Linked DNA regions of Homo sapiens: region 2 is linked to region 1. Evidence: fine-mapped expression QTL. A gene starts in region 1. The other region holds a variant in brackets. All regions are shown on one strand. Distances are between the middles of the regions.

Region 1 (5,381 bases):
AGCTCATTCAATTCCACTGCCTCTTTAAGCTTCAATTTTCTCATTTTAAAAAATTGGGTTGATAATTCCTTTTTTCCTCTGAGCTCTACATTTGTTATACAGTGTGCTTTCAGTATCACATTATCAAGCTCTAAAGTGCTTAGTACCTTGCTAGCATATGGTAAGTGCACAATTCATATTTGTAATAAACGAAGGAATTAGTATGTCAAGGCTACCTCAAGGGGTTCTTCTGAAATGCAGCTTGTTATTGTTTTTACCTATGTCACCCTGTCATCCGTCCCAGTTTGCCTATTGCCAAGTTTTTTTCTTTATTTAGCAGCCCCTGCTTTGGCCACTAGATGGCACCAGAGGAAAGTTCCTTAAAGACAGCAAAAGAAGGAAAGATGGGTGAGGTTAGCCCCAGTATGAATAAAGGAGCCACCCAGGTTAATTAAGTAAAACAAGCACCCAGCATTTCACCGAAGACATTGCAAGGAAGTGAAGCCTTCATGAGACTGGACTTCAAATGAACTTTGAGCACTGGTGGAAACAGAAACAAAAAACTCTCTGCTAATAGAAATAAGATACTGGAACCAAAGACAATAGCCTTGAACAAAACATTCCGGGACACCACGGGTATCAGCAGAATGGGGGCAATCTAAGAAGACAGGCCAGACCAGATCACTCACCATGATTAATGATTATCACCATTACACAGAGAAACCTAGATCTGATATGAAAACTCCACTCAATAGAGCAGATCTGTTGCATATATTTCAGTTTAATTTAATGTGGACTAAACTATATGTAGTTCTCATTTCAGAGTCAATTTTAACCAATCCTTGTGTCATCTATTTAAAGTCACCAAATAACTCCCCTAAATATTGTTACATGGAGGCACCTGGGCTATCCAGACTCAGTTTACTATAGAAGTCACGAATCTAGAGTCCCGAGTGGGCAAAAGAAAGTAGGCATCTGGTACATAATGCTGCCTTTTAAAGCCTCGCTTCTGTCTGGTGCATTGCACGTGACTTACAGATGCAACAGACAACTCTACTTGCTGTGTGATTCTGTGCTTACCAGAAACTTTCCAATTATAAATGGACTTTTCCTGTAGATCTGCCTTCAGGAAGAAAAAGCTATGTCCTTGCAAGCACAAAATTAATTCTCTGAATCTGTCGGACTTAAAACCTTGGACAGTGTTGAATTCTGTGTTGAATGCCCCCTGGAATAGCTCTTCACAGATCACCAAAGCCCTGGTGACCGCATATTGGCCCATTTTCTTCACGTCCTTTTTTTCTACTTTTATAGCCATGATTCTCCATCCTGGTTGCAGATCAAAATTATCCATGAAGATTTTTATTAATACAGATCCCCAGACTCTAGTCCCAAAGATTCTAACTCAGTAGATCTAGGGTTGATCCAGGTATCTGTATTCAAAAGAGACCCAATAGATTCCAATAAGGCTGACCCTAAATCTATGGTGTTTCAGAATCATGCATCTTCTGGATTATAATTCCATAAGTTAGTCCAGGACCATAGAATCATGGACGATATTATTTGGAAAAACGTCTCCAGATGCATAAGAACCCCATACTACAACATCTTCAAATGCTCAGGTTCCCATGGAAGCTCAGTATAAAGGAGGCTGACAGGAAGACACTAGCCCATTGAAGCTTAACACTAAGAAACCAGCAGACCTTTGGGAACTTCAGCTTTTAACTAGGAGTATCCAAAAAGTCCTATTAGCTATTGGAGAAAAGGCTACTGATGCCCTAGCTGGCCAAAAATACATATATGAGACCAAGACCAGATACGTAATTTGTGGGTCCCAGTGCAAAGTTGAAAAGTTAAGAATTTCAAGATGGCAACAGCAGAGCATTAAACCAAGTGTGAGCTCTTTCTGAGAATGGAACGTTGTGCAGCTGCACAGGGCACATGCCCATGAAGTAGCCTATGCGGGACTATTGGGACCAGGCTACAACTGAGGCAGGACAGTGATTTGTACATCAAGGAATAACTGTAATCCGATCAGTATCTGATCTTCCTCTCAATTTGCTTGTTTTTCTGCATCCTTGAGGCAGCCTTTGGGAATCTCTTTAAAATGCAAATTCAGTAGTGTCACTCCCCTGTGCAAAAGCATTCAATGGCATCCCATTGCTCTAGGATCATATCTAAAGTCCTGAGTATGGCCCACAAGTGCCTGTGCCTTCTGGCCCCTGTCTACCTCTCCCACCTTGTGCTCCCATTCTCTTTATGCTCCAGTCACACTGCCCTTGTTTCAGTGCTTGCAATTTTCCAGGCTCCTTTCTCTTCGGGTCTTCACATATGCAGTTCTTTGTGGCTAGAAGAATCTTCCCTGTCTCTTCTCACTTAGCTAAATTCTACTTATCCTTCAGGTCATAGGTTAAATGTTGCTTCTGCATGGAAGCTTTTTTGACCCACACTGGGACACGCTGTCCTCTTACCCTCTATTTGTCCCTTATAAACTGATTTCCACTGTTCTTAAATGGCGAATTGTGCAATTATCTGTTTAAAGGCTATCTTTCCTGCTAGACTACCTGCTTCTCTGTCTTATCACTGCCATATCCCCTTTGCTTAGTGTAGTGTCTGAAACACAGGAAGTAAGTACTCAAAAAGTAGTTTTGAATTAACTAATGAGAAACATGGCAACAAATGAAGAAAGGGTGAAAATATCAGGCACTAGTATCTTCTTCTTGTTGAAGAATCACATTTACTTCCAAAGCCTACTGACCTAATCTTCCAAATCACTCCATACATGGCACTAAACATCCCTTATACAAAGACAGCACAATTGTCCAGGACAATCCAATTTTTAGCTGTCATCATGGAGTGCTTATTAACAACACTTACTTTTGCTCACCAAACTGCCTGTGTGGATGCTGAATTATGTGAATGCTCTACTTATATACCATGATCCAGTAACTCATGAGCCATCTCTCTCTCTCTCTTTCTCTCTCTGTGTAGGCGAACTGATGACAGACAGCTTCTGTGTTTTGGTGGCTGTGGTATTAACAGCAAGCTTAAGTTATTAAACCGAGCAGCTTTAATCCTCGAGGTCTCCTGGAGCAGTAGGGATTAATGTATTTTTACTCCAGAGCCAATGTAGCTATTCCGATGCTCTAAGATCTGCTCTCTGCAATGCCCAAACTGACCCCAATTGCCTTTCTCTAGACCCACTTCTCCACCGTGGGAGAAGTGATGGAATTCTACTTGGAGATCGACCCTGTTACCTTGAACCTGATCATCCTAGTTGCGAGCTACGTCATCTTGCTCCTGGTCTTCCTCATCTCCTGCGTGCTATACGACTGCCGAGGCAAGGATCCCAGTAAGGAGTACGCGCCCGAGGCCACTCTCGAGGCCCAGCCCTCCATCCGGTTGGTGGTGATGCACCCAAGTGTCGCTGGGCCCCACTGGCCAAAGGGGCCTGGCCTTTCTTTGGGGGATCCTGCTCCACTAGGAAAGAAAAGCACCATGGTATGAGGCTGGCTAAGGGACACTGGGGAGAGACCACTAGACTTTCCATAGAGACAAACTGCTCCCTATCGTGGCTCCAATTCTCTCAGCACATGTATCCCGCTTGATGAAGGAAGTGAGAGCTCTGTCTTACTTGCTGTTTTCTCGTCACCTTCTTTGTGACAAAAGTAACTGTTTAAGGTAAGAAGCCCAAAGTGGTCTTTAGTCAAATTCTCCAAATGCAAACTGTCAGCAATGCTGTAGTATAATGAAGTTGGTTACTGGTACATTTCTGATGTTGCTGTCCTTGCAACTCACAGGAGAGAATGACTTTTGAGAAAGGATGCAATATTGTGTGTGTGTGTGTGTGCACGTGCACGTGCGTGTGTGTGATAAGGAATGAGACTAACTCCAGTCTAGTCTATTCTTTGCAAATTCTTTCTTTCCAAGGCAACCAGTTTTTTGTTGTTATTTTTCTTTTCTTTAAGAGACAGAGTCTTGCTCTGTTGCCCATGCTTAAGTGCAGCAGCGTGATCATAGCTCACTGCAGCCTTGAACTGGGCTCAAGCAACCTTCCCACTTCAGCCTCCCATGTAGCTAGGACTCTAAGGTCATGACACCACGCCTGTCTTTTTTTTGTAGAGATGGGGTTTCACTATGTTGCCCAGGCTGGTATTGAACTCCTGGCCTCAAGCAATCCTCCTGCCTCAGTCTCACAAAATGCTGGGATTATAGATGTGAGCTGCTGCACCCAGTCAAGGCAACCCCATTGAACTTGTTCAGACTTCAGAACATTATTATTTCTGTACCTACCAGCTCTTCACGTTCTATTCCCAACTCCAAGACAGAATAAGGAATGCATACAACTAAAACAACAAAGCTTGGAGCCTGGGTTCAAATCCTGCCTCTTCTACTTGCTAGCTGTGTGGCCATGGTTAAGTTGAGCCACCTCTGTGTCTCAGGGATAGTGATTGGACCACTAAGCTTTTGGGGCTATTTAAATGAGTTAATTCACCAAAAGCACTTGAGACAGTTCTTGACACACAGGGTTAGCTATGATGATGATCACTGATAATATTTCCTTCCATATGCCTCATAAAAAATTTAATCTCCAATCCTCAAATCCGGCCTGATCCAATACAAAGTTATTGAAAACTCATTGAAAGAATTCTGAGACCCCACAGCTTGGTGTATCTGTCCCCAGAACACTGCCTGCTCTCCCTTCACTCTCTTTGTTGATGTTGAATGGTATGTTTTTTCCCCTGTTCATTAGTCTATTTCCAAAATTTTTGAATTATTATCTCCATTGTGTGTATTTTTATTAACCCTCCCTTCCCTGAGCTCAGAGAAACGTATGTATTTACTTTGAGATTTACTGAACCTCTTCTTTCCATCAGGACCTGTGTGGAAATAAAGAGAAATGAGTGTCATGACCCTGCCATATGATCTTTGCCGCCCAACAGAAGGAAGCAGGGTCAGGCATGACTTAGACAATGAAAGATAAGAAAGCTTTGCAGATGCTCTTTTAGAAGTCTGCATAGGATGCAGGAGTCAACAGAGACACGAGTGTCTGGCACACAGAAGACACTCAAGAAATATTCGAATAATGTTGAATGGCCAATTTCATCTTAGACTCAGGTACCAAAGATAAGATGATTTGTCTTAAAAGATAAGTAGTTATTTTTCCAGAAGAACCAAAGTATGTTGGAATCTTGAAGGGTAGGACAGGAGATGGCCTTTTAGAAGAAGAAATAACAAAAACAAAGCTTGAAAGCAAAATAATTAGAGTCCATTGGTTGTGAAGGTCTGATGGTGTCCAACATGTGAAGAAAACGTGAGAAATTCAATTTTGGTTTCTCCTGTAGAAAACTGAAGAGGAGGGCCTGGCCAGCCTGCCCTGCCAGCTTTGACAATGAGCACTGTTT
Region 2 (5,381 bases), 62 kb after region 1:
GGAACATTTACACAAACTCCTGAACAATAGGATGTATGGCCAAATACACTTGGGCTTATTAAAACCATATGTGGGTCAAATATGCCAGGCTTATTAAAAGTGTTTCCTTTTTTTTTTTTTTTTTTTTTTGTAGAGATTGAGTCTTATGCTGTCACCCAGGCTGGAGTACAGTGGCCCAATCATAGCTTACTGCAGCCTCAAACTCCTGGGCTCAAGTGATCCTCCCTCCTCAGCCTCCCAAGTTGCTGAGGGCACCCACCACCTTGCCTGTCTAATTTTTAAAATCTTTTTATTTTTTGTGGCGACAAGGTCTCACTATGCTGCCCAGACTGGTCTCGAACTCCTGGCCTCAAGTGGTCCTCCTGCCTTGGCCTCCCAAAATGCTAGGATTACAGGCATCAGCCCCTGCATACAGTCTAAATTTAGTTTTCTTTAGAATTTTTCAGAGACTTTGATATGCATTGTTCAGGAGGAAAGAAAGAGTCTTAAATCTTTTGTGCAGGAAATATATAGTAAATTCCTTAGGTAGCCCAGTTTAGGAAAACTGGTAAATTCATTCATTCAACAGATATTTATTAAGTACCTACACTGTCAGGCACTGTGCCAGGTACAAAGAGGGTGTATCTTTCTCAAGAATTTTCATAGCATTTTTAATCTAGTGACAAGAGAAGACACTCAACAAATAAACAAGACTGTTTCAGCCTGTGATAAGAAACATATGGAGGAAACAGCCACTTCAAAGCCTCTGTGGGGAGCTATGTGAGCTGGAACTTGAAGATAAAACATAAGTCAGCCACAGGAAGAGCCATGGGGAAAGTATTCCAGGCAGACAAGAGCAAGTGCAAAGACACAAAGACAAGAAAGATCTTGGCCTGCTTCAAGGGCAACCCAAGGTCAGCCAGCTGGAGGTGCTGAAGGAGGGTGATGGATGGAGACACTGGTAGAAAATGAGGTTGGAGAAGGTGCGAGTATTGGATCATATAGGGTCCTGTTATGCCACCATCTGGAATTAGGGTCTTAGTCTATGGATGATAAGAAGCCATTAGGGGCTGGGCACAGTGGCTCACACCTGTAATCCCAGCACTTTGGGAGGCTGAGGAGAGCGGATTATGAGGTCAGGAGTTCGAGACCAGCCTGACCAACATGGTGAAACCCCATATCTACTAAAAATACAAAAATTAGCCAGGCGTGGTGGCGCATGCCTGTAATTCCAGCTACTCAAGAGGCTGAGGCAGGAGAATTGCTTGAACTCGGGAGGCGGAGGTTGCAGTGAGCCATGATCGTGCCACTGCACTTCAGCCTCGGTGACAGAGCGAGACTCCGTCTCAAAAAAAAAAGAAGCCACTATGGATCTTTAAGCAGAGAGTTGCTGGCAAAGGAGATGGAAAGAAGTGGGCAGATTAGAGATGTCTTCTTGGAGGTAAAGTTGGTGGACTCTCCAGTGTTACTGTGTAGACTCACGGGTGCCTAAACCTGTTGTCTACGCTCTGCCAGTATTGCCTTGTGCTTGTGAGCCTCTGTCTCCTAACTCAGCTGCAAGTTCCCTCTCTCTAGGCTGTAAGCAGAAAGCAAGGAGTACTATCTGGGTATTGCACCCGGGTTCCACGTCTGGGCTCACACTCAGCAACTGTGTAAATGTGGGCAAGTCGCTTCACTTCTCTGAGCCTCCACCATGTTCTCTGTGAAATGAAACCAAAGGAGACTAAGTGATCTACTTGCAACACTGTGAGATCCATGTTCTATGCTTCTGATGGCAGCAGAACTAGATAGAAAAGAATAAGGAATTTGCCCCACACCCCTTGAGAGAAAGCAACGAGGAAATGTAAAAGGTCAAAGATTAGATATGCTGTTAGTTTTCACTTGACTGCTGTAACAATTTAGCACACAATGAGTGTCTTAAAACAACAGAAATTTTTTTTCTTTCATATTCTAGAAGCCAGGAGTATGAAATCAAGGTGTCAGAG[G/A]GGCTGTACTCCCTCCGAAGGCTGCAGGAGAAAATCTATTGCTTGCCTCTTCTACCTTTTGGTGGTTCCAGGAGTTCCTTGGCTTGTGATCACATCACTGAAATCTTAACCTACCTGGTCATACTGCTGCCTCTTCTTCTCTCTCAAAACTTCTCCTGCCTCTCTTCATACTTGTGATTGCATTTAGGGTCCATCTGGGTACTCCAGGAAAAACTCCTACTGTCAAGATTTAACTTAATCATATCTTATGTCATATAAAGTCATGTTCAATATTTTACAACATAAAATAATAGTCACAGTTTCTGGAGATAAGGACATGGGCGTGTCTTTTGGGGGATCATCCTTCAATCCATTGCATCTATCTATCAGTGATCACCCCAACCCAAATAAACCCGCATAATATTTTCAGGTATCCATTTTTCCTTTTTCCAGGGTCCCTATTCCATGACTTTTGTTTCTTTCATTTCTCCTTCATAGTGCTCAATATTGGGCTTTGCACAGAGTAGACGGTTACTCAATGAGTGCTGCTCCCAAAAGAAACTTCCAGAAACCCTTTAGTAAGAGTATCCTGGGCCAGGCGCAGTGCCTCACTCCTGTAATCCCAGCATTTTGGGAGACCAAGGCGGGCAGGTCACTTGATGTCAGGAGTTCCAGGCCAGCCTAGCCAACATGGCGAAACCCCCTCTCTACTAAAGATACAAAAAAATGAGCTGGGCGTGGCAGCATGATTCTGTAGTCCCAGCTATTTGGGAGGCCGAAGCACGAGAATCACTTGAACTGGGGAGGTGGAGGTTGCAGTGAGCCTAGATTGCGCCACTGCACTCCAGCCTGGGCGTCAGAGCAAGACTCTGTCATAAAATAATAAAAATAATTTTAAAAAAGAGTATCCTATCCATTTCCCTTAAAACTCGAAGTTTGGAAAATCAGCTTTACACCAGTTGATCTGTAAGGCACAAAAGAACATACTTAGCTAGATGTAAAGTGATCAAGATTTTAGTCCCTACTCTAAACCAACTTGTTTATGACCCTGGATAGACAGGTCCCTCCAGCTGTCTAGACATTTGCTTTCTAAAGAGAGGGACTTACTACAGTTGGCTTCCCCAGAAGCCCTTATACCACTTACATTCCACAAGAATTCAAGAATAAATATGGTCTTTCTCAGGATCCTTTGAAATACATTATTTCCTTTAAGTTACAGAAGAAAAACACAACCTTTTGCCCTATCCTACTGCATATTGGCATGAAGTAGCTGCCCTAGAAGAAGAAAAGGATGAAGTGAGGTAAAACATCTTCATTTTCCAGTCCTGATGGCCCAGATCTGAACACTTGGGGCTTTTGCAATAAGGAGGGTCAAGTTTCAAAGATCGCTATCTCTGCAGTAAGCACTATTACCGTTTTGGAAAAAGTTAACAGATCCTTCAGCCAGCAAATATTCTTAGGCTTAGCAACATATAACTAACTGGATGTCTGTTTCTGTCTTCTACCCTCATCCTGCCCATCTCCCCCACCTCCCCCTCCCAACACCCGACCATATCCTCTGGAATACTTCCTCCCGTAAATAATTTGAAGAGCCAAGCATTAATTAGAGAAGTTATAACAGAGAAATCAAAAGAGGCACAGAAATAGGAAAAGAATTATCCGGTCCCTTTCATCACACTCCTTTACTTGGGCCTTAAAGGAAATATAAGAACTTTTGGCCAGGCGTGGTGGCTCAAGCCTGTAATCCCAGCACTTTGGGAGCCCGAGGCGGGTGGATCACGAGGTCAGGAGATCGAGACCATCCTGGCTAACACGGTGAAACCCTGTCTCTACTAAAAATACAAAAAAATTAGGCAGGCGTGGTGGCGGGCACCTGTAGTCCCAGCTACTTGGGAGGCTGAGGCAGGAGAATGGCGTGAACCCGGGAGGCGGAGCTTGCAGTGAGCCGAGATTGCCCCACTGCACTCCAGCCTGGGCAATAGAGCAAGACTCCATCTCAAAAATAAATAAAATAAATAAATAAATAAATAAATAAATAAATAACTTATGCCAGGGAGAAAAAAACATAGCATTAACTGAGCACCTACTATATACCAGGCCTTTTCCTGGTTATCTTACCCTCACAACAATCTGTGAAATAGATATTACATCCCCTTTAACAGATATGAACATAATAGCCAAAAGGTGGAAACAACTGAAATGTCCATTGATAGATGAACGGATAAAGAAAATGTGATATATATATATATATATAATGAAAGATTATTCAGTCTTAGAAAGGAATGAAATTCTGATACATGCTGCAACATGGATGAACCTTAAGACATTATGCTAAATGAAATGAACGATATACAAAAGGAGAAATATTATATGATTCCACTTACATGAGGTACCTAGAACAGGCAAGTTTTATAGAGACAGAAAGTAGAGTAGTGATTACCAGGGGCCACATGGAGGGGAATGGAAGTTATCATTCAATGGGCACAGAGTTTCTGCTTGGGATGATGAACCAGTTCTGGAAATGGATAGTGATGATGGTTGTACAACATTGCGAATGTTCTTAATGCTACTGAACCGTACACTTAAAAATGGTTAAAATGGGCTGGGTGCAGTGGCTCAAGCCTGTAATCCCAGCACTTTGGGAGGCCGAGGCGGGCGGATCACGAGGTCAGGAGATTGAGACCATCCTGGCTAACACGGTGAAACCCCGTCTCTACTAAAAATACAAAAAAATTAGCCGGGCGTGGTGGCGGACACCTGTAGTCCCTGCTACTCGGGAGGCTGAGGCAGGAGAATGGTGTGAACCCAGGAGGCGGAGCTTGCAGTGAGCTGAGATCGCGCCACTGCACTCCAGCCTGGGCGACAGAGCAAGAGTCCATCTCAAAGAAGAAAAAAAAATGGTTAAAATGATAAATTTTATGTTATGTATATTTTACTATAATAAAATAAAAGGATATGGAAACTGAGAGACTGATTGTCTCAAGCCTCATAGCCACTATTAGGGGAAGCCAGGGTTTGAGCCCATCTGTGTGACATGTGATAAATTATCATATAGGAGGAAAAAATTAGTAGTGATAATACTGATCTCCAGACAAAGCAAAAACCTCCTATGAAGAAACCTTAGCTTCTCATGTCTACCCTGAGCTAATTTCCTGACCTGAGGTTGTTTTTCAGATGACAACTGGATGGGTGGAAAGAATGTTAACACATCACTCATTGAATATTATCTAGCCACATCCTCGTAAGTCCCTTCTGTAGATGGCCTTATCTGCTGTTTTATCCTGTGGATCTAACTCTGTTTGAACTTTGAGAATAATTAAAGAACTAAAAGAAAAATAAATAAAGCTCTGGAAGCTTACAAATAACAGCAATAACGAGAGTAAATAGAGTGATTCCCTTCAGCCAGTGTCATGGAATTTTCCAGGTCACTAGACTGTA

Direction of the effects. Alleles are on the strand shown, and positions count from the first base shown. SD is a standard deviation of normalised expression in the study named.
For the expression in testis of the gene that starts at base 3,084 in region 1, G is the low allele of the variant in region 2 and A is the other (small effect, 0.27 SD a copy in GTEx).

The links. PIP is the estimated chance that this variant, and not a neighbour inherited with it, causes the effect.
Region 2: its variant is the best candidate, but not a certain one, in a credible set for the expression of SMIM36 in testis (GTEx, PIP 0.73).

Annotation. Positions count from the first base shown.
Region 1 is chr17:55,509,155-55,514,535 of GRCh38, reverse strand. It overlaps SMIM36 (small integral membrane protein 36), which reads left to right and starts at 3,084. Exons shown (of 5, transcript NM_001395421.2): 1 at 3,084-3,657. The coding sequence starts at 3,202. The coding sequence ends at 3,483.
Region 2 is chr17:55,446,851-55,452,231 of GRCh38, reverse strand. It overlaps SMIM36 (small integral membrane protein 36), which reads left to right. Exons shown (of 5, transcript NM_001395421.2): 5 at 1,934-2,376. Among named protein-coding and RNA genes, the nearest start is that of MMD, 28 kb to the right of the region's middle. The variant G/A (reference allele first, on the strand shown) is at 1,965.